2 linked regions of the Homo sapiens genome follow. The protein of the gene in region 1 interacts with the protein of each later gene in a pairwise test. Each region holds a gene or a part of one and is shown in the gene's direction. Other genes may lie near its edges.

Region 1 (9,495 bases):
TATCACACTCAACTCTGCCATTGTGGCATAAAAGCCACGCAGACAATTTGCAAACAAATGAGCGTGGCTGTGTTCCAATAAAACGTTATTTGCAAAGACAGGCGGGGGGCCAGATTGGTCTGCAGGAGTTGTTTGCTGGCTGTAAGATGTAGATACAGACATTCTCATACAAAAGCATGTATATAGTGTGTTGTCAAAAAAAAAAAAAAAACTCAGTGATATTTGTTAAAGCACAGTAAGGCAAACTCTTTTCAAGACCATTGTGATAGGTAGAGGGGCCATGGCAATGGGATTTTGCAGTGGAGTAGAGAAACTGTGTTCAACTCCAAACACAGCATGGGCAAATGGGAATTTGCAGCCAGGGAGCAGGGTGGAGGGTCAGTGGATGGAAAATTTCTAAGAGGAAACATTAGGGATCCAGGGGGGTTCTGGCTAAACCAACCTAACACATTTCCTAGTGAAGATCTGGCATCACCAGGGGGATGGTGGAGGATGAGGAACCTGACCAGATATGGAGGTGATCAGATAGCAAGGGTTGGGGGTTCTTGCTGAACTGAATTAGCAAGATTCTTTGCTAAAACCTGATTTTACAAGTACGTGTACACATGGGCCTAGGAGAAGGTTCAGGAGTCTAAGTCTTTGCCATATATTATTACTTTTTTCTTTTTTTGAGACAGAGTCTCGCTCTGTCGCCCAGGCTGGAGTGCAGTGGCGTGATCTCGGCTCACTGCAAGCTCCGCCTCCCAGGTTCATGCCATTCTCCTGCCTCAGCCTCCTGAGTAGCTGGGACTACAAGTGCCCGCCATCACACCCGGCTAATTTTTTGTATTTTCAGTAGAGACAGGGTTTCACCATGTTAGCCAGGGTGGTCTTGATCTCCTGACCTTGTGATCCGCCCACCTCAGCCTCCCAAAGTGCTGGGATTACAGGCGTGAGCCACCGCGCCCAGCCTTTTGCCATATATTACTTTGCAACTTGCTTTTGTTTCCCTAACAAATATATCCTGGAAATTACTTCCTCTTCCTCTTAGTTCCTTAAGAGCATCACACCTGCCCCAACACTTTTTGAATTTTTTTTTAGAGACAGGGTCTCACTTTGTTGCCCTGGCTGGAGTGCAGTGGTGTGATCATAGCTCACTGCAACCTCAAACTCCCGGGCTCAGTTCTCCCACCTCAGCCTCCCAAGTAGCTAGGACCACGGGTACCTGGCTAATTTTTTTTTTTTTTTAAGAGATTGGGTCTCCCTGTGTTGCCTAGGGGGGTCTTGAACTCCTGGCCTCAAGCTGTCCTCCCGCCTCAACCTCCCAAAGTACTGGAATTACAGGTGTGAGCCACCACACTGAGCCCTTCCCCTCTTTTTATGGCTAAAGAGTATTCCATTATATAGATATATCATAGTTTATGTAACTAGGACCCTATAAATGAACATTTAGGCTGTTGTCAACATTTTACTAACATAAATAATACTGCAGTTAATAGTCTTATGCTTATGGTTTTTTATATGTGCAACCTATTCTTTTACTATAGTATAAAGATTCAAATAAATAAAAACCTGTTAAACTAAGATAATAGCATTTTACTTTAAAATAACATTTTTAACTATAAAAGTAATACTCTTTATCAAATTTAGAAGAACAAACAATCCTGAATGTATGGAGCTAAAACTGAAAGTATTGCATTTTAGTCCTCCACTCCCACCCTAGCCACGTGTACTCCTCTCGGCCAAATTGTTAACAGTTGAACACAGGTGCTTCAGACCTTTCTTTTGTTGCAATTGGTGGTAGTTTGATTTTGTCATCCCATACTTAACATGTAAGTATATCCTCAGGCTAACTTATTTTTCAAAAATGTGATCATGCTACACATATTATGACTTGATCTTTTTATTTTATGTGGTTTTTAAATATCTATCGAGTTACCTCATTCTTTTTTCTTTTTTAAAAAAAAAATCTCAGCTAATTTTCCCAAGTCAACCTTATTCTTTTTTTGATTGATAGTTTATAATATGAATGTACCATAATTAGCCATTTCTCTATTGATATTTAGACTTCAGTTTTTCAGTACTTGTAGACAACTACAGTTAATATCCTGGGACATGGCTTTGCATATGTACTAGTATTTCTATAGAATAGATTCCAGAAGGTGAAATGGTTAAGTCACTTTCATTGATTTTCACAAGTATACTCATATCTGAACTTTTGCTGCCCAAACTCTGGGATTAAATAGATTTGGGTAAATGTTTTGAAGAATCCTTACTGTATGTAATCTTACTACTCTCCTTCCAAAATCAAATTGATTCACATAAAAAAATGTAGCCTTCGTTTCCTAACTTGCCATCCAAATTCTGGCTCTCCAAAATCAGGAACTCAAAAAATTCCGATCAAGAGGGATACTTATATTCTCATATGAATCTTTGTTATATCCACACAGATTCTCTCTTTTTGCATATTATTTATCTTTTTATCTTGTTTTTATGTAGTTTTATAAAATAAAAAGTTGTACATTTTTATGTAGAATATCTGTTGATATTTTCCTCTGTAAATTCTAGGATTTTACTTTACTTAGGTTGTCTTTTCCCACCTAAAATTTTTAAAACTCTATTCCCTTCTATCCATATATAGTTATTTTTAGACACACTAGAATTTTTATACATGAAATTTATGCATAATCAATTTTGTCAACATGCTTTTAGTAAGTCATACTTTGTCATTAATTTTAAATATCTCCTTTATCATATATCAAATTCTTATATATACAAGGGTCTGTACCAGGATCTGTTCCTGCAACAATGCCATATTGTTTTAATGAATATTTCAATTTCTAGATGGGAAAATTCCTTGTTTTCATATATTTATTTATGATTGCTTAATTCTTCTTCCAGGTACGTTTTATTTTATTTTTATCCACGCTCGGCCCCAGGTACATTTTAGAAAAAAACACAACTGACTTGTTCATTTATGCTTCTTCCAGCAATGCGTGAGAATGTGTGTAGGTCTGAGAAAGACTGGCTAGGGGTCTGGAGCCAAGGTTAAGACTTGAATAAACCTAGAACAATTAAAGATAAATTATCTGTCCCCTAACCTGGGAGACATCCAATAGGTTTGTAACACTTTTGAGTGTTACCTAAGTGTTTTGTTTAGTGAGCTCTTAACTCATTTACCTTTTTCTCAGTTTAACCCCCTCCACTTCACCTTTTTAACCCCTTTCACAGTCATTTCCTGTAATTTCTTATCATATAACCTATGTACATCCTCTTCCCTCTTCCTGGCATTTCTGTCCATCCCCATGGGCCCCATGGCCCAGTTTTCTTACTGGGAAATCTGATTTGTTCCTAAAGACTCAGTTCAGATATTACTTTTCTGGGAGGTTTTTATTCATGCTAATGGTAAGAAGTAAGAATGTTGTTCTAACCTTTGTGCATTGTTTATTCTTATATTATTACCATTATCAAACTTTGAGCTGAATCAGGACACATGATACATGCCGTAAATGTTTGTTGAAAAAGAATAAAATATTTCTGCTTTCAGGGAGCTCACCAAAGAATAAGAAGAAAAGCTTAGGATAGGAGAAAAATAGATATGAAAGCACACTCTGTGTGTGTGTGTGTATGTGTGTGTGTGTGTGTGTAAGTCACTAACAGCAGAGCTCTTATATAATCTCTCCCCCCACCGCCCCACAAACTGATCAAGCTTTTAATTGTATTGCTTCCCCTAGAAGCCTTAGATAATGTGCTTATACTCAAATCGCGACAATTATTTTGACCCAGGAAGGCATTCCAGATGTGGTACAGGCAAAGGCACAGAGCCACAGAGACAGGACCACTGGATCGTTATCATGGGAGTTTCAGAGTGAAAGACTGGGGAGCAGTCACTTCTGTAGCGCGGAGTTGGGTTGTAAATGAACAGGTATTCTGAATCTTTTCTTTCTTTTTTTCTCAGTATTGGATGAACGAATATACCTCATCCATTGGAATTGGAGTTTTTCATTCAGGAATTGAAGTCTATGGCAGAGGTACGTGTACACACAGTCTAAATATACTCTCTGAAGATTTTGTACTTTAAAAGAGTTGCAAAATCATAACTATAGGTCTCTCTTTTTTTAACCACTTGCATATGTTATTACAGAAAGTAGAAGAAAATCTCCCCATATTCATTTATACTGCGTTTTGGAAAAATGCCCAAAGTAGAATGTATTTGGGGAGAAAGTACTCAAAATACAAGAATATACATTTGCTTCATTCACTTTATCTTTTATTCTAAATACTATGTTTTAAAAAATATTTTCCTTTTGTGATTGTCATAAAATGACAGTTTGTTTTGTTCTCATATATATTGGAGCTCCTAAGAAACCTTGCATTTCGAAAATAGCATGATAAAAACAATAATTTTGGTCGGAAAGGTTGGTGCTAGAAAGTGTCAGACTTGAAATACCAATTTCCTGAGGGAATTTCAGTAATAAATTTGGTTTGTAGACCTATACGTCTTATAAAATCTATAAGTTTTTGAAGTCTAAAAACATTGCTGAGCAAATCCTGCCATGATTACATCTAATCATGCCCTTTGTCATTAACTCAGCCCTTTTCATTCTCCTTATTAAAACCCTTTATTAGGATAAACATGTCAGGAGTCACTCAAACCAAGCAGCTGTGTTTTCAACAGTTTTTTTCCACTGTGCTAATTCCTACTCTTGATGCAAGATAATCTACCCCTGATCAAGTTGTAACTAATAGTAATGGTCTGCGTAAGACAGATCACATTGCTGATTTCATTCAATGTATCATTTTGAATTATAAACTAACCCTATAGCAGAAATGCCTTTGTTCGCTTCAGCTAGGCAGTCTTTGTGACCTCTTAAGAATATATTATTGCAGTTTACTGAGGGTTACCCCTGAACACTATACACCAGTTTTAACCAATACAAAGAAAAGACTCATTTACTTAAATGTGTCAGTATGGTGGTTATACTCTTTTTTATATTCCATTTTACCTGCTTCCAGGTGAAGTTTAGCATATTAAATGTTGGCTATAAAAATCTGCCATTTAAGCTCTATTTTACTTGAAAGTCTGCATCTACCAAATAATCCCAGGAAATACTGAGGGGCTCTTGCTGGAAGTTTCATGCTTGGGAGTATTGCTGTGGGTGGGATCATAGTCTGTGGGGTTACTCTTTTGGCTGATTTGGCTTTTGCCAAATTTGCATGTGTATTTCTTGAATTTGTGTGATGTGTTACTGTTCTTAAAATGCCATCAAGTTTTGAACCACATGATCATGGTGGGTTAGGTAAGGGCAGGTGCCATCTTCTCCATTTTTCAGCTGAAGAAACTGAGGCCCAAACCTGCTGGAAGTCATCATGCTAATAATTAACTCAAACTTGAACCCAAATGTTCTTGTATGCTAGTCCGTGGCTCTATTATCTCCCTAATCATTGCTCCCCTTCATAAAATTATTTAGTAATAATTAGAAACATGTTTCAAAACATGTTCATGTAAATTTAGTAAAGCTAGAATCAAATATTAATATATTCCTGAAAATTAGTGATTGCTTTTTAAATAAAAGAATGGGTCTGTGACTTTCCGTACTATAATTGAGAAAGTTAAGAATCCAAATATAATCTTATCCCTTCCAACCTGATAATCTACAATATTTTGTAAAATTTTGTCACTAAAAAACTTTAAAAATTATGTTTCAAAATAGCCACTTTATTTCTCAAACTACATCATTGCTTTTTTTGAACAGGTCTGAATTAAAAGTAAATTTAGTATCTGCCTGTTCTTTCCTGTGCTTTGTTCTAAGACCTTTTAAGGTATATTTTTAAAGTGATGAAGTTGATTTAAGCATGGTTTGGAATTCTTTAAATTTGTCTACTAAGACTTAGCCACTGAAATATCTAAGTGAAATAACAGAAAATTACAGGAATTTTTTATCTAAAATTATTCTCCATTTTGTTCTCCAGAGTTTGTATCTGATGTACATTTTGTATTGGATGTACAGTCAAAAAATAGTTTATCCTAGCTAAAAGACTTGCTGTGGTGATTGGATGGGAGGGTGGATGGGTATGTGTGTTAATTTGGCAGTTTATTTTTTTCTTACATGAAGAGAATTGAGTAGTGTTTTAGGTTTGGTAATGTTCCACCCTACTCAAAGATAAACCAATAGTCTTTATCCCAGAAACCATGAAACTCACTGTTACTAGACAGTTTCTCCAGTAAGATATGTGTTTGAAATTGGATCACTTTAACTTAGAAAGTGGCAAAACACTGAACTGACCACCTGCCTAGACTGGCATGATATAGACAGGCAGAGAGAACTGTATATACCTCTGTGTGTTGATCACTCTCTTCCTGCCATGATAAGAAAGGGAAATATGGCAGGCAAGAATATCTTTGAGTGTCTTCTGTTATTTGAGTTTCGGGTCTTTTGTGACAACTGTTTATACGAGTAATAGCTAAGTGAGATATTTGTGAAAGCATTTTATAAACTGAAAAATATTTAGATGGTGTCACTGTTATCCTCAATTATTAAAGCTAATTCAGCATTCTGGTTAAATTTTATGTGATACATACTAAAAATCATGAGTTTTCTCTTTTCAGAATTTGCTTATGGTGGCCATCCTTACCCCTTTTCTGGAATATTTGAAATTTCCCCAGGAAATGCTTCTGAACTAGGAGAAACATTTAAATTTAAGTAAGTAGGGAGGATAATTTTTATTACACTGTCTTAGGTGCCATAGCTTGTTTTCAGGTATACAGAATTCATTCTGTAAATCAAAACAAACCCAAGAAGTTAAAAATGTCTCTTTGTTTTAATTGCTGACATTTTATATAACTCAAGTTTGCCTCAGGAAACTCATTTCTTTTCCTTTTTTTTTTGAGATGGAGTCTCACTCTGTCTCCCAGGCTGGAGAGAAGTGGCGTGATCTCAGCTCACTGCAGCGTCCGCCTTCTAGGTTCAAGCGATTCTCCTGCCTCAGGCTCCCAAGTAGCTGGGATTACAGGCGTGCACCACGACGTCCGGCTAATTTTTGTATTTTTAGTAGAGATGGAGTTTCGCCATGTTGGCCAGGCTAGTCTTGAACTCCTGACCTCAGGTGATCCACCTGCCTCGGCCTCCCAAAGTGCTGGGATTACAGGCGTGAGCCACCACGCCCAGCCCAGGAAACTCCTTTCTAATGATTTCTTCCCCTCAATCTCCTGTTTGAAAGGAGAAAAAGTTTTATTGTGACCTACCTAGCAAATTAAAAATGTCTTTATTGTCCCAATGAAAGGGACACTTTACACGTTTGAAATAATTAAACAGTTGATTAGCGTAGAATCCATTGTTAAGGTACATGTATTACATGTAATGATAAACCTAAAATATATGGATGTAAGTGTTCACTGGAGTCTTACGAGTAATAAAAAGCAGTGAGAATATAATTTTTTTTATTTATACTTTAAGTTCTAGGGTACATGTGCACAACGTGCAGGTTTGTTACATAGGTATCCATGTGTCATGTTGGTTTGCAGCACCCATGATCTCATCATTTACATTAGGTATTTCTCCTAATGCTATCCCTCCCCCAGGCTCCCACCCCGCGACAGGCCCTGGTGTGTGATGTTCCCCGCCCTGTGTCCAAGTGTTCTCATCGTTCAGTTCCCACCTATGAGTGAGAACATACGGTGTTTGGTTTTCTGTCCTTGTGATAGTTTGCTGAGAATGAGAATATAAATGTTAATAATAAAATTTTCATTCCTTAATTGAGGTTTGTATTTAAAGTGATATTTAGGGCCGGGTGCAGTGGCTCATGCCTGTAATCCCAGCACTTTGGGAGGCCAAGGCAGGCGGATCACCTGAGGTCAGGAGTTCGAGATCAGCCTGGGCAACACGGTGAAACCCCGTCTCTACTAAAAATATAAAATTAGCCAGGCATGGTGGTACATGCCTGTAATCCCAGCTACTCGGGAGGCTGAGGCAGGAGAATTGCTTGAACCTGGGAGGCAGAGGATGCGGTGAGCTGAGGTCGCGCCATTGCACTCCAGCCTGGGCAACAAGAGTAAATCTCCGTCTCACCAAAAAAAAAAAAAAAAAGTGATATTTAGAATGTGAGTTTCAAGGAGCTTTAAACTTCTGGGCCTATAATAGATGGCTTGCCAAGTGAAAAAGAGACAGTGAAATGAGGTTCCAACATTAAACTTCAGTAGAGAGCTACACATTAAGCCCTCTACTAAGTTCATAGTTCTCTTAGCCTATCACTGAATTGAAAGATTTTCGCACGTAAGTGCTATGATACCATCCTGAATCCACTCCTTCGGGCTCTCTTTTGGCAAGACTACTTGATAAAAGGATTTTCTAAGTATTTTCAGGTTCCTTGGATGCCTTTTATCTGACTAAAATTCCACTTTCTCTTGGATAATGTCTGTCGCCTTTCCAAGGTAGTAGTTTGGAGTCCTTTTAATTTTTGTTTGTTTAGAGATGGAGTCTTGCTCTGTCACCCTGGCTGGAGTACAGTGGTACGATCTCGGCTCACTGCAACCTCTGCCTCCTGCGTTCAAGCGATTCTTCCGCCTCAGCCTCCCAAGTAGCTGGGATTACAGGCACCTGCCATCATGCCCGACTAATTTTTGTATTGTTTTAGAGACGGGGGTTTCACCGTGTTGGCCAGGCTGGTCTCGAACTCCTGACCTCAGGTGATCTGCCCACCTCGGCCTCCCAAAGTGCTGGGATTACAGGCGTGAGCCGCCATACCCGGCCAGGGTCCTTCTTTTTAAAAAACGTTTAGTCAGATTTGACAGTTTGTCTCATTGCAGCACAGTGACAGATAACTTAAAAGTTTGTTTCTAGGTGACATTATGGCCAGCCCTTAAATGGCAAGTGAAATTACGCAGGAATATTTGCAGCATGGATCTGGTTCCCTAATAATATAACTGCTAATACAATAGTTGTGAAAATAACTGTAATATTACATGTTACATAAGGACATATATTTCATAAAGAAAATGACTTGTGCTTTTGTAGTATTCATAGGTAATATACTTAAGAGTTTATTGCAGAAAAGTAGAAACTAAAATAGGACTTTTAAAGTATCTTGTTTCACTTTTAGTCTTGTTATATTAACCCTGATTTGTTATGTCGATCATAATATTCCTGGAAATAAGCAAGTATTTAAACATGCTTTTTATAAATATTTGACACAACTATGTCCTTATTTTTCTTTCTCTTTTTTTTCTTTTTGTTCTTTAAGAGAAGCTGTTGTTTTAGGGAGCACGGACTTCCTAGAAGATGATATAGAAAAAATTGTAGAAGAACTGGGAAAAGAATACAAAGGCAATGCTTATCATTTAATGCATAAAAACTGCAATCATTTTTCTTCAGCTTTATCAGAGGTAAGCTAAATTTTATCCTAAAAGTTCTTCAAATAAATATTTGCTATCCCACTATACTTGATATCCCACTATATTCGATCTTGATTCACTTCTTTTCCGATTTTTTGTGTTGTATGAAATATGGTATTGTATTT
Region 2 (9,495 bases), on another chromosome or scaffold:
AATTTTTGTATTTTTAGTAGAGACGCGGTTTCACAATATTGGCCAGGCTTAACTCCTGACTTTGTGATCCACCCACCTCTGCCTCCCAAAGTGCTGGGATTACAGGCGTGAGCCACCGCGCCTGTCCACAGAAGGCCTGTTTCATAGCTTTGGCAGATGTTTATGATCCTTTAATTAAAAATCCCCCAGAGGATGGGCACGGTGGCCTGCACCTGTAATCCTAGCACTTTGGGAGGTCTAGATGGGAGGATCGCTTGAGGCCTGGAATTTGAGACTGCTCACTGCAGTCTCTGCCTCTCGGGCTCAGGTGATTGTCCTGCCTCAGCTCCCTGAGTAGTTGGGATTACAGGCATACACCACCATGCCCAGCTAATTTTGTATTTTTAGTAGAGACAGGGTTTTGCCATGTTGGCCAGGCTGGTCAGGAACTCCTGACCCCAGGTGATCCGCCCGCCTCGGCCTCCCAAAGTGCTAGGACTACAGGTGTGAGCCACCATGCCTGGCCATGAATGAGTTTTAGAAATGGATAGTGGTGATGGTTGTATAATGTTGTAAATGGACTTAATGCCACTGAATTGCACAGTTAAAAATGGTTGAAATGGTGAAATTTGTTATGTATATTTTACCGAAATAAAGAATAGAAATGTCATACTCCATGAGAAATCTCATACTCTCATACTTAGTAGTCACTCCCCATTTCCTAACAACCACCCTGAGGCAGCTACTCATCTACTTTGTCTTTATAGATTTGCCTATGCTGGATATTTCTTATAAATGAAATCATAAAATGTGTGGGTTTTTTTGTGATTGGCTTCTTTCGTTAAGCATAATGTTTTCAAAGTTAATCTGTCTTGTCACATCATATCAGTACTTCATCTCTTTTTATTGTTGAATAGTAATTTACTGTCTAGACAGACAATATTTATTCATTCTTCAACTGATGGATGTTTGGGTTCGTTCTACTTTTGGAGATTATGTATAATGCTTCTGTGAACATTTGTATACAAGTTTTTGTGTGGACATGTTTTCAGGTTTTTTTGGTATATACCCAGGAGTGGAATTGCTGGGTTATATAATAACTGTTTAAGCTTTTGAGGAGCTGCCAGACTGTTTTCCAAATCAGCTGTACCATTTTACATTCCCACCAACACTGTATGGAGGCTCCAATTTCTCCACAACATGAACTGCTTTTGAATAAAGATTTAAATCATTCTTTCAAATGGTTAAGCCAGGGACTTTTAGGATTATAAGGAGCCTTTAGAGACCAGCCATTCCAACTCTGCTACTTCCTAAATGAATTTGGTACTAGTACTTGGTTTGGTATTCTTAGTGGGAAGCTCACACTAAAATCTCCCTTGTTAGGGAGATCCAGGGTGGTCTTGGCATACTCTTTCCTCCTGAGGACCCCAAATACACTGACCTGTGCTGAAGTAAGCGTAGGTAGGGATTAAACTAGCATGGGAATGCCGATTTTGAGAGAGTTTCCAGATACCTTATTCTCTGAATGACAGTTCAGGGAAAGCCCGGCTACTCTTGGCATTAACATTAGGGGCCAGTTGATAAGGAAGAAGCTTCAGAGCCAGCTTCCTGTTTGGCCTGTCACTGCCTCTGCCTGCTCCTCCCTCACACCCCCATATTTCCTTACCTTTAGAAGAGAGTTGCCAGCAACTTGCCAGGCCTCTTCCTGTCAGAACTAGATAAACCAGGCAATGCCTTCTGTTGTATAAGATCAACATTCTTGCCTTTTTTTTTTTTTTTGAGATGGAGTCTTGCTCTGTCACCCAGGCTGGAGTGCAATGATGCATCTTGGCTCACTGGAACCCCTGCTTCCTGAGTTCAAGCGATTCTCCTGCCTCAGCCTCCTGAGTAGCTGGGACTACAGGCGCACACCATCACGCCCAGCTAATTTTTGTATTTTTAGTAGAGACGGGGTTTCACCATGTTGGCCAGGATGGTCTCGATCTCTTGACCTCGTGATCCGCCTGCCTCAGCCTCCCAAAGTGCTGGGATTACAGGCGTGAGCCACCGTGCCCAGCCCATTATTGCCATTTTTTATAAGGCCTATGGTAATGTGTGTTCATTCTATACCTATAGTACTACATTAACATTTTCCCATTTGTGATTCTAGTTGCAGTTGCCAATACCTATGCCTGTAAGGGGCTAGACAGGATTGAGGAGAGACTGCCTATTCTGAATCAGCCATCAACTCAGGTGAGCTTGGGACAAAAGTGCTGAGACTTGACACTTCACATGTTTTCATCTTCTATCTGTTAAAACAAGCTGTACATATCACAAACAGGCAAATACTTGTTTTCCCAACCTGGATCTGGATGTATGTTTGAAAAATAATGGCCACTTCCTTACTTCCTGAACTGTTGTCAAGTTGTATCTACGAAGCAGAGAAGAACTAGCCTCCTTTGGATTAGAAAACTTTTAGTGTGTTGTCTATCAGTTTGTGTCTTTGCTCCTATAAATGAAATTGCTGTCTCAAGTAACTGATTGTCTTGTGGTATTAAATAAATGCAGACGTGATATATATAACCTTTTCTCACCTGGCTTGTACAATGCTGCCAGGAACTACCATCCATATGGGATAGCTAGCCAGTGTTGACAAAAATGATAGGCTTGTCTGTCCTGGTGATCCTTTGGTTCAGATAATGTCCTAAAATTTTGTTTCAAATTAAGAATACAGAATGGCACAAAAGGATACCAGTTAGGGAAAAATATAGCTCTGTGTCTTTTCATAATCTAAATACAGTCATCTGTCACTTAGTGATGGGAATATATTTTGAGAAATGCACATTAGGTGATTTTGCCATTGTGTGAACATCACAGAGTATACTCACACCAACCTAGATGGTAGAGCCCAGTGGTCCCCAAGCTTTATGGCACCAGGAACTGGTTCCATGGAAGACAGTTTTTCCATGGACCAGCAGGGGGTGGGTGGTGTTTTTGGGATGATTCAAGTGCACTATATTTATCATTAGATTCTCATAAGGAGCATGCACGTGCACAGTTCACAAGAGGGTTAGGGTTAGGTCTCCTATGAGAATCTAATGCCGCCTCTGACTGGTAATGGACTGGTAATGGACTGGTAATGGTCCATGGCCCGGGGGTTAGGGACTTGTGGTGTAGCCTGCTATATACCTAGGCTATATGGTGTATAGCCTGCTATATACCTAGGCTATATGGTGTATAGCCTGCTATATACCTAGGCTATATGGTGTATAGCCTGCTATATACCTAGGCTATATGGTGTATAGCCTGCTATATACCTAGGCTATATGGTATATAGCCTGTTGCTTGCTTCTAGGCTACAAACCTGCACAGCATGACTACACTGACTACTGTAACACAATGATAAGTATTCGTGTATCTAAACTAGAAAAGGTACAGTGAAAAAAAAAAGTATACCTGTTATAGGGCAGTTCATTATAATCTTATGGGACTATCATTGAATAGTGGTCCATCGCTGACCAAAATATTATGTGGTACACAACTATAGGTAGGTTTAGTGTATAGCCTTTAGAATGCTTGTGCAAATCTTTTAAATTTTTCACTTACATTGCTTGAGACTGTGCTAATGGTGAGAGTTATTTTCCATTTCGGATATTTTCTTTAAATGTTGGTAACTTGTGTTCTTTTTTTTTTTTTTTTTTTTTTTTTTGAGACAGAGTCTTGCTCTGTCACCCAGGCTGGAGTGCAGTGGCACAATCTCGGCTCACTGCTGTCTCTTCCTCCTGGGTTCAAGCAATTGTCCTGCTTCAGCCTCCCCAGTAGCTGGGTTCACAGGCACGCCCCGCCACACCCAGCTAATTTTTTTTGTCATTGTTTGTTTGTTTTTGAGACAGAGTTTTGCTCTTGTTGCCCAGGCTGTAGTGTAATGGTGCAATTTTGGCTCACTGCAACCTCCACCTCTGGGGTTCAAGTGATTCTTCTGCCTCAGTCTCCCAAGTAGCTGGGGTTACAGGCATGTGCCACCACGCCCAACTAATTTTTTGTATTTAGTAGAGACGGGGTTTCACCATGTTGGTGAGGCTGGTCTCGAACTCCTAACCTCAGGTGATCCAACCAACTCAGCTTTGCAAAGTGCTGGCATTACAGGCATGAGCCACCATGCCCTGCCATGTATAATAACTGCATACTAATAACACCCCGAGGGCCAGGTATAGTTTGATCTTCAGTTTCCTCTCTGGATTTGTGTGACTTTGGAATAAGCTATATAACTTACCTTCTTTTCTTTTCTTTTTTTTTCTTTTCTCTTCTCTTTTTTTTTTTTTTTTTTTGAGACAGGGTCTTGCTCTGTCACCCAGGCTGAGTGCAGTGGCACAATCACAGCTCACTGCAGCCTTGGCAAACAGACAAATTTCATATCTGTTTACTTCATTTGCTCCTCCTGCAATTCCCAAGGATTGGCAGGTAGGGCAGATATACTTGATAGGGAAATTCAGGCTCATCAACTCTTAGTGACTTGCCCAAGACCTAAAGCTAGAGTGAGAGGACTAGATTCCTTCTTTAACTCTTCAGCTGTGCTGCCTTAGTTAAGACCTTAGGTATGTCCTTGTGCTCATTTTTCTCACCAGCCAGGGGATCTGCTTTTCTACTTACAGATTGTTGCCAATGCCAAAGGCGCTGTGACTGGGGCAAAAGATGCTGTGACGACTACTGTGACTGGGGCCAAGGATTCTGTGGCCAGCACGATCACAGGGGTGATGGACAAGACCAAAGGGGCAGTGACTGGCAGTGTGGAGAAGACCAAGTCTGTGGTCAGTGGCAGCATTAACACAGTCTTGGGGAGTCGGATGATGCAGCTCGTGAGCAGTGGCGTAGAAAATGCACTCACCAAATCAGAGCTGTTGGTAGAACAGTACCTCCCTCTCACTGAGGAAGAACTAGGTAACTGGAATTTTATCTTGAAATACTGTTTTATATTAAATCTTTCTTAAACAGCTTCATTGACATATACTCTCATCTTGAGTCTAAATTTACACAGTTGTGCAAGCATCACTGCAATCCAGTTTCAGAACACTTCTGCTACCCCAAAAGATCCTCATGCCTGTTTGCAGTCAGTCCTTTTTAATTTAATTTAATTTTATAGAGATGGGATCTCACTATGTTGCCCAGGCTGATCTCGAACTCCTGGGCTCAAACGATCCACCTGCCTTGACCTCCCAAAGTTCTGGGATTACAGATGTGAGCAACCACTAATCTTTTTGCCTCTATAGATTTTCCTTCCTAAAGCAATCATAAAGTTCACATTGAATCGTACGTAGTAAGTTTTGAAACCTTAGCAAAAATTGGCCTTGAAAAATATTTTCTGTAAATGGATAGTCTTTAATGGATTGCTTTATAAAATCCTCCTTACAAAGAATCATCATTAGGTAATGTGTGCCAGGTACCATGCCGCTCAAGTTCACTCTAGGCTGGGAGCAATGGTGCATGCATGCCTACAATCCCAGCACTTTGGGAGGCTAAGACAGGCAGATCGCTTGAGTTCAGGAGTTTGAGATTAGCCTGGGCAACATGGCGAAACCCTAAAAAACACAAAAATTAGCTGGGCATGGTGGCTTGTTCCTAGAGTCCTAGCTACTCGGGAGGCTGAGGTGAGAGGATCAGTTGAGCTCGGGAGGTTGAGGCTGCAGTGAGCCAAAATTGTGCCACTGTACTCCAGCCTGGGCAACAAAGCAAGACCTGTTTCCAAAAAAAAAAAAGCAGTTTACTCTAGTGGGAGAAACGTGTAGATGCATGCAGTGTGTATCAGATACAGTAATATGTTCAGGGTAGTCAAGTCCAGCAGCAGACGTGAGCAGTCTTGGAAAAATGACTGCATGATTGCTAAGTGATTGGGTAGAAGTAAGAAAGTCAAGACCCAGGTTAGAGTCCAGGCCTTATCACTTGTCACTGTGATCCCTTAAGTTTTTTTGTCTCTTATTTCTAACTTCAGAAAAAGAAGCAAAAAAAGTTGAAGGATTTGATCTGGTTCAGAAGCCAAGTTATTATGTTAGACTGGGATCCCTGTCTACCAAGCTTCACTCCCGTGCCTACCAGCAGGCTCTCAGCAGGGTTAAAGAAGCTAAGCAAAAAAGCCAACAGACCATTTCTCAGCTCCATTCTACTGTTCACCTGGTGAGTAAAACTTTATTTTAAGGTGTCTGAAGTGGGTTCATTTATCTCTAGGCCCAAGAATTAAATGTAATCACAAAATCCAAGAATTTCATTCTTAGTTGACAAACAACCCAATAGAAAACTGGACAAAGAATATGGAGACAGCTCACAGAAAAAGGAAGTATAACTAGTTGAAATATAGGAAGCAATGCTAATCTCGCTCTGAGGGGTCAAATACTGACATCTCTCTTGTCCTGCCACACGGGAAATGTGGCTGTTGGCAACGGTGTAGAGAAAGAACCACACTTGTGCAGCTCTTGCTCTAAGGGACTGATTCAAGAGACAGTTTTAGTAAAGTTACAAGCATACCTACACTTGGAGCTGTTTTACTTTTTATCTTACAGATGTGTATATTTGTTTAAAGTTGCAAGAGACTATAACAATGCACATCCACTAACAGGACTAATTAAATTGATATATCACAATAGACTACTGTGTAGCCATTAAAGGTTTCCAAGTTAAAGAACAGTATGTACCATTCTGTACTGCCATGAGAAAACCATTTCTTCTTAGAAGGGGAAATAGTGGTTGGCAACAGGGAAGAGGAAGGTCAAATTCCTTTCTGTTTTGTAATGCTAACTTATCCTTTACTCATGTACACATTAAATTTTAGTTGCTGGCTGGGCGTGGTGGCTCATGCCTATAATCCCAGCACTTTAGGAGGGCAAGGTGGTTGGATCACCTGAGGTCAGGAGTTCGAGACCAGTCTGGCCAACAAGGTGAAATCCTGTCTCTACTAAAAATACAAAAATTAGCTGGGCATGGTGGCGTATGCCTGTAATCCCAGCTACTCGGTAGGCTAAGGCACGAGAAGGAGGTTCAGTGAGCTGTGATCGCGCCACTGTACTTCAGCCTGGGTGACAGAGTGACACTCAAAAAAAATTTTTTGTAGTTTTTTAGTTGCTTTACCTGTGCTAAACTGGAAGTAAATGTGGAGTCAGTGATTTAATAGTTAAATAGAGGCAGTAAAGAGCTACTACTGCTTGGTTAATTTACACATATTGATAATAAATAATAATGATAGCAGGAATAGATCTTATTCAACTCCAGGAAATTCTTAGTTTTTATGTTGCCTGATTTACATCATACATCTGCAAACAGGCTAACGTGAATATCTGACTTGTGTGTTCCTTTGTCTTGTTTCAATGTGTCTAGATTGAATTTGCCAGGAAGAATGTGTATAGTGCCAATCAGAAAATTCAGGATGCTCAGGATAAGCTCTACCTCTCATGGGTAGAGTGGAAAAGGAGCATTGGATATGATGATACTGATGAGTCCCACTGTGCTGAGGTAAGATGACTGGGACGGTCATTTGTTGGTTGCTGAAGAAGTTCTTATCAGACTTTTCATTTCAATTTTTCCATACTATGTCTTAGAATACTCTTCTCTATCAAAAGGTTGAACAATACCATGTACATAGGTGGCTAGTTATGTGGCAGAAAAGCAAAACTAGGCAGCGAATAATTTTATCTAACAACCTATGAGTATACATATGCCCCAAGTGAGATACAACTAAATGAGAAACACAGGCCTTGCCCTCATAATGGGTACAGACTAACAGGGGATACAGCCAGCCATGCTGTCCTATTTTGTGCCTTTTTAATGCTCCTTGCAGAAGAGGGCTATCTCATAGGCAGTACACTCAGAGTAGCCAAGTCCGGTTGTTGTTTAACGGCATAAATACAGGTACTATTGGCTGGGCGCGATGGCTCACGCCTGTAATCCCAACACTTTGGGAGGCCGAGGCGGGTAGATCACGAGGTCAGGAGATCGAGACCATCCTGGCCAACATGGTGAAACCCTGTCTCTACTAAAAATACAAAAAATGAGCCAGGCATGGTGGCACGTGCCTGTAGTCCCAGCTACTCGGGCAGCTGAGGCAGGAGAATAGCTTGAACCTGGGAGGCAGAGGTTGCCATGAGCCGAGATCATGCTACTGCACTCCAGCCTGGGCAACAGAGTAAGACTCTGTCTCAAAAAAAAAAAAAAGAAAACATATGGGAAGACTATCTCAGGCAGCCTTGGAGTGGGGGTAGTTGAGTCACATTGCTTTCTGGAAGAGATGAATGGTAAGCTGAGAACTAATGGGTGAATAAACTAGGTGAAAGGGCAATAAGGTGACCAAGGTTCCAGAGGGAAGGCATAGCATCTTGGCTGGGTGCAATGGCTCACACCTGTAATCTCAGCATTTTGGGAGGCCAAGGCAGGCAGATCACTTGAGCCCAGGAATTCAGGACCAGCCTGGGCAACTGTGAAACCCCATCTCTACAAAAAATACAAAAATTAGCAGGGTGTGGTGGTGTGCACCTGTAGTCCTAGTTGCTCGAGAGGCTGAGGTGGGAGGATCACCTAAGCCCGAGAGGTCGGGTCCGCAGTGAGCCATGATTGTGCCAGTGCCCTCCAGCCTGGGCAACAGACTGAGACCCTGTCTCAGAAAGAAAGAAAGAAAAGAAAAGAAAGAAAGAAGAAAGAAAGAAAAAGGAAGGGAAGCAGGGAGGAAGGAAGGGAAAAGAAATATCCTCTTATAGTCCTAGAAAGTGGTTCTTTGTGTCCCAAAAGCTCTGAAGTCAATATGAACTGTTTGTTCATGTCTTGTCATTTTATTTGAGGAGGGAATATATACATTACACTACTAACATGAAGGATATTTCCATTCTTTTGGGTCTCCCCTACCTAATATGTTTCTTCAGTTTAAGATGATGAACTTTGGAGACTCAGGCACTAGTTCGAATCCCTACCCAGCTGTTTTCCAGTTGTTAACTGAAGCCATCTACTTAAACTCTAAGCTTATATTCATATCTATGAAATGTGAATAATACTGCTGCACTCGGCATTGTAATGAGGATTTTTAAAAGCCAAAGAATCCACATATGTGGTGGACACATAACCAGCCTACTGTCATCGAACTAATTTATACATAGCACTGTTGGATCCACTGCTAATTTTAAGTTTTATTTTTAGCACATTGAGTCACGTACTCTTGCAATTGCCCGCAACCTGACTCAGCAGCTCCAGACCACGTGCCACACCCTCCTGTCCAACATCCAAGGTGTACCACAGAACATCCAAGATCAAGCCAAGCACATGGGGGTGATGGCAGGCGACATCTACTCAGTGTTCCGCAATGCTGCCTCCTTTAAAGAAGTGTCTGACAGCCTCCTCACTTCTAGCAAGGGGCAGCTGCAGAAAATGAAGGAATCTTTAGATGACGTGATGGATTATCTTGTTAACAACACGCCCCTCAACTGGCTGGTAGGTCCCTTTTATCCTCAGCTGACTGAGTCTCAGAATGCTCAGGACCAAGGTGCAGAGATGGACAAGAGCAGCCAG

What was found.
Region 2: the proteins of DESI2 (region 1) and PLIN2 interact in binary tests that used the Homo sapiens proteins (3 or more experiments, as listed by UniProt).

Annotation. Positions count from the first base shown.
Region 1 is NC_000001.11:244,682,660-244,692,154, forward strand, and holds part of DESI2 (deubiquitinase DESI2), read left to right. Parts: intron 1-3,937; coding exon 3,938-4,010; intron 4,011-6,589; coding exon 6,590-6,683; intron 6,684-9,219; coding exon 9,220-9,361; intron 9,362-9,495. UniProt on the Homo sapiens protein: Has deubiquitinating activity towards 'Lys-48'- and 'Lys-63'-linked polyubiquitin chains. Deubiquitinates 'Lys-48'-linked polyubiquitination of RPS7 leading to its stabilization.
Region 2 is NC_000009.12:19,116,281-19,125,775, reverse strand, and holds part of PLIN2 (perilipin-2), read left to right. Parts: intron 1-2,128; coding exon 2,129-2,211; intron 2,212-4,610; coding exon 4,611-4,896; intron 4,897-5,944; coding exon 5,945-6,126; intron 6,127-7,320; coding exon 7,321-7,455; intron 7,456-9,126; coding exon 9,127-9,495. UniProt on the Homo sapiens protein: Structural component of lipid droplets, which is required for the formation and maintenance of lipid storage droplets.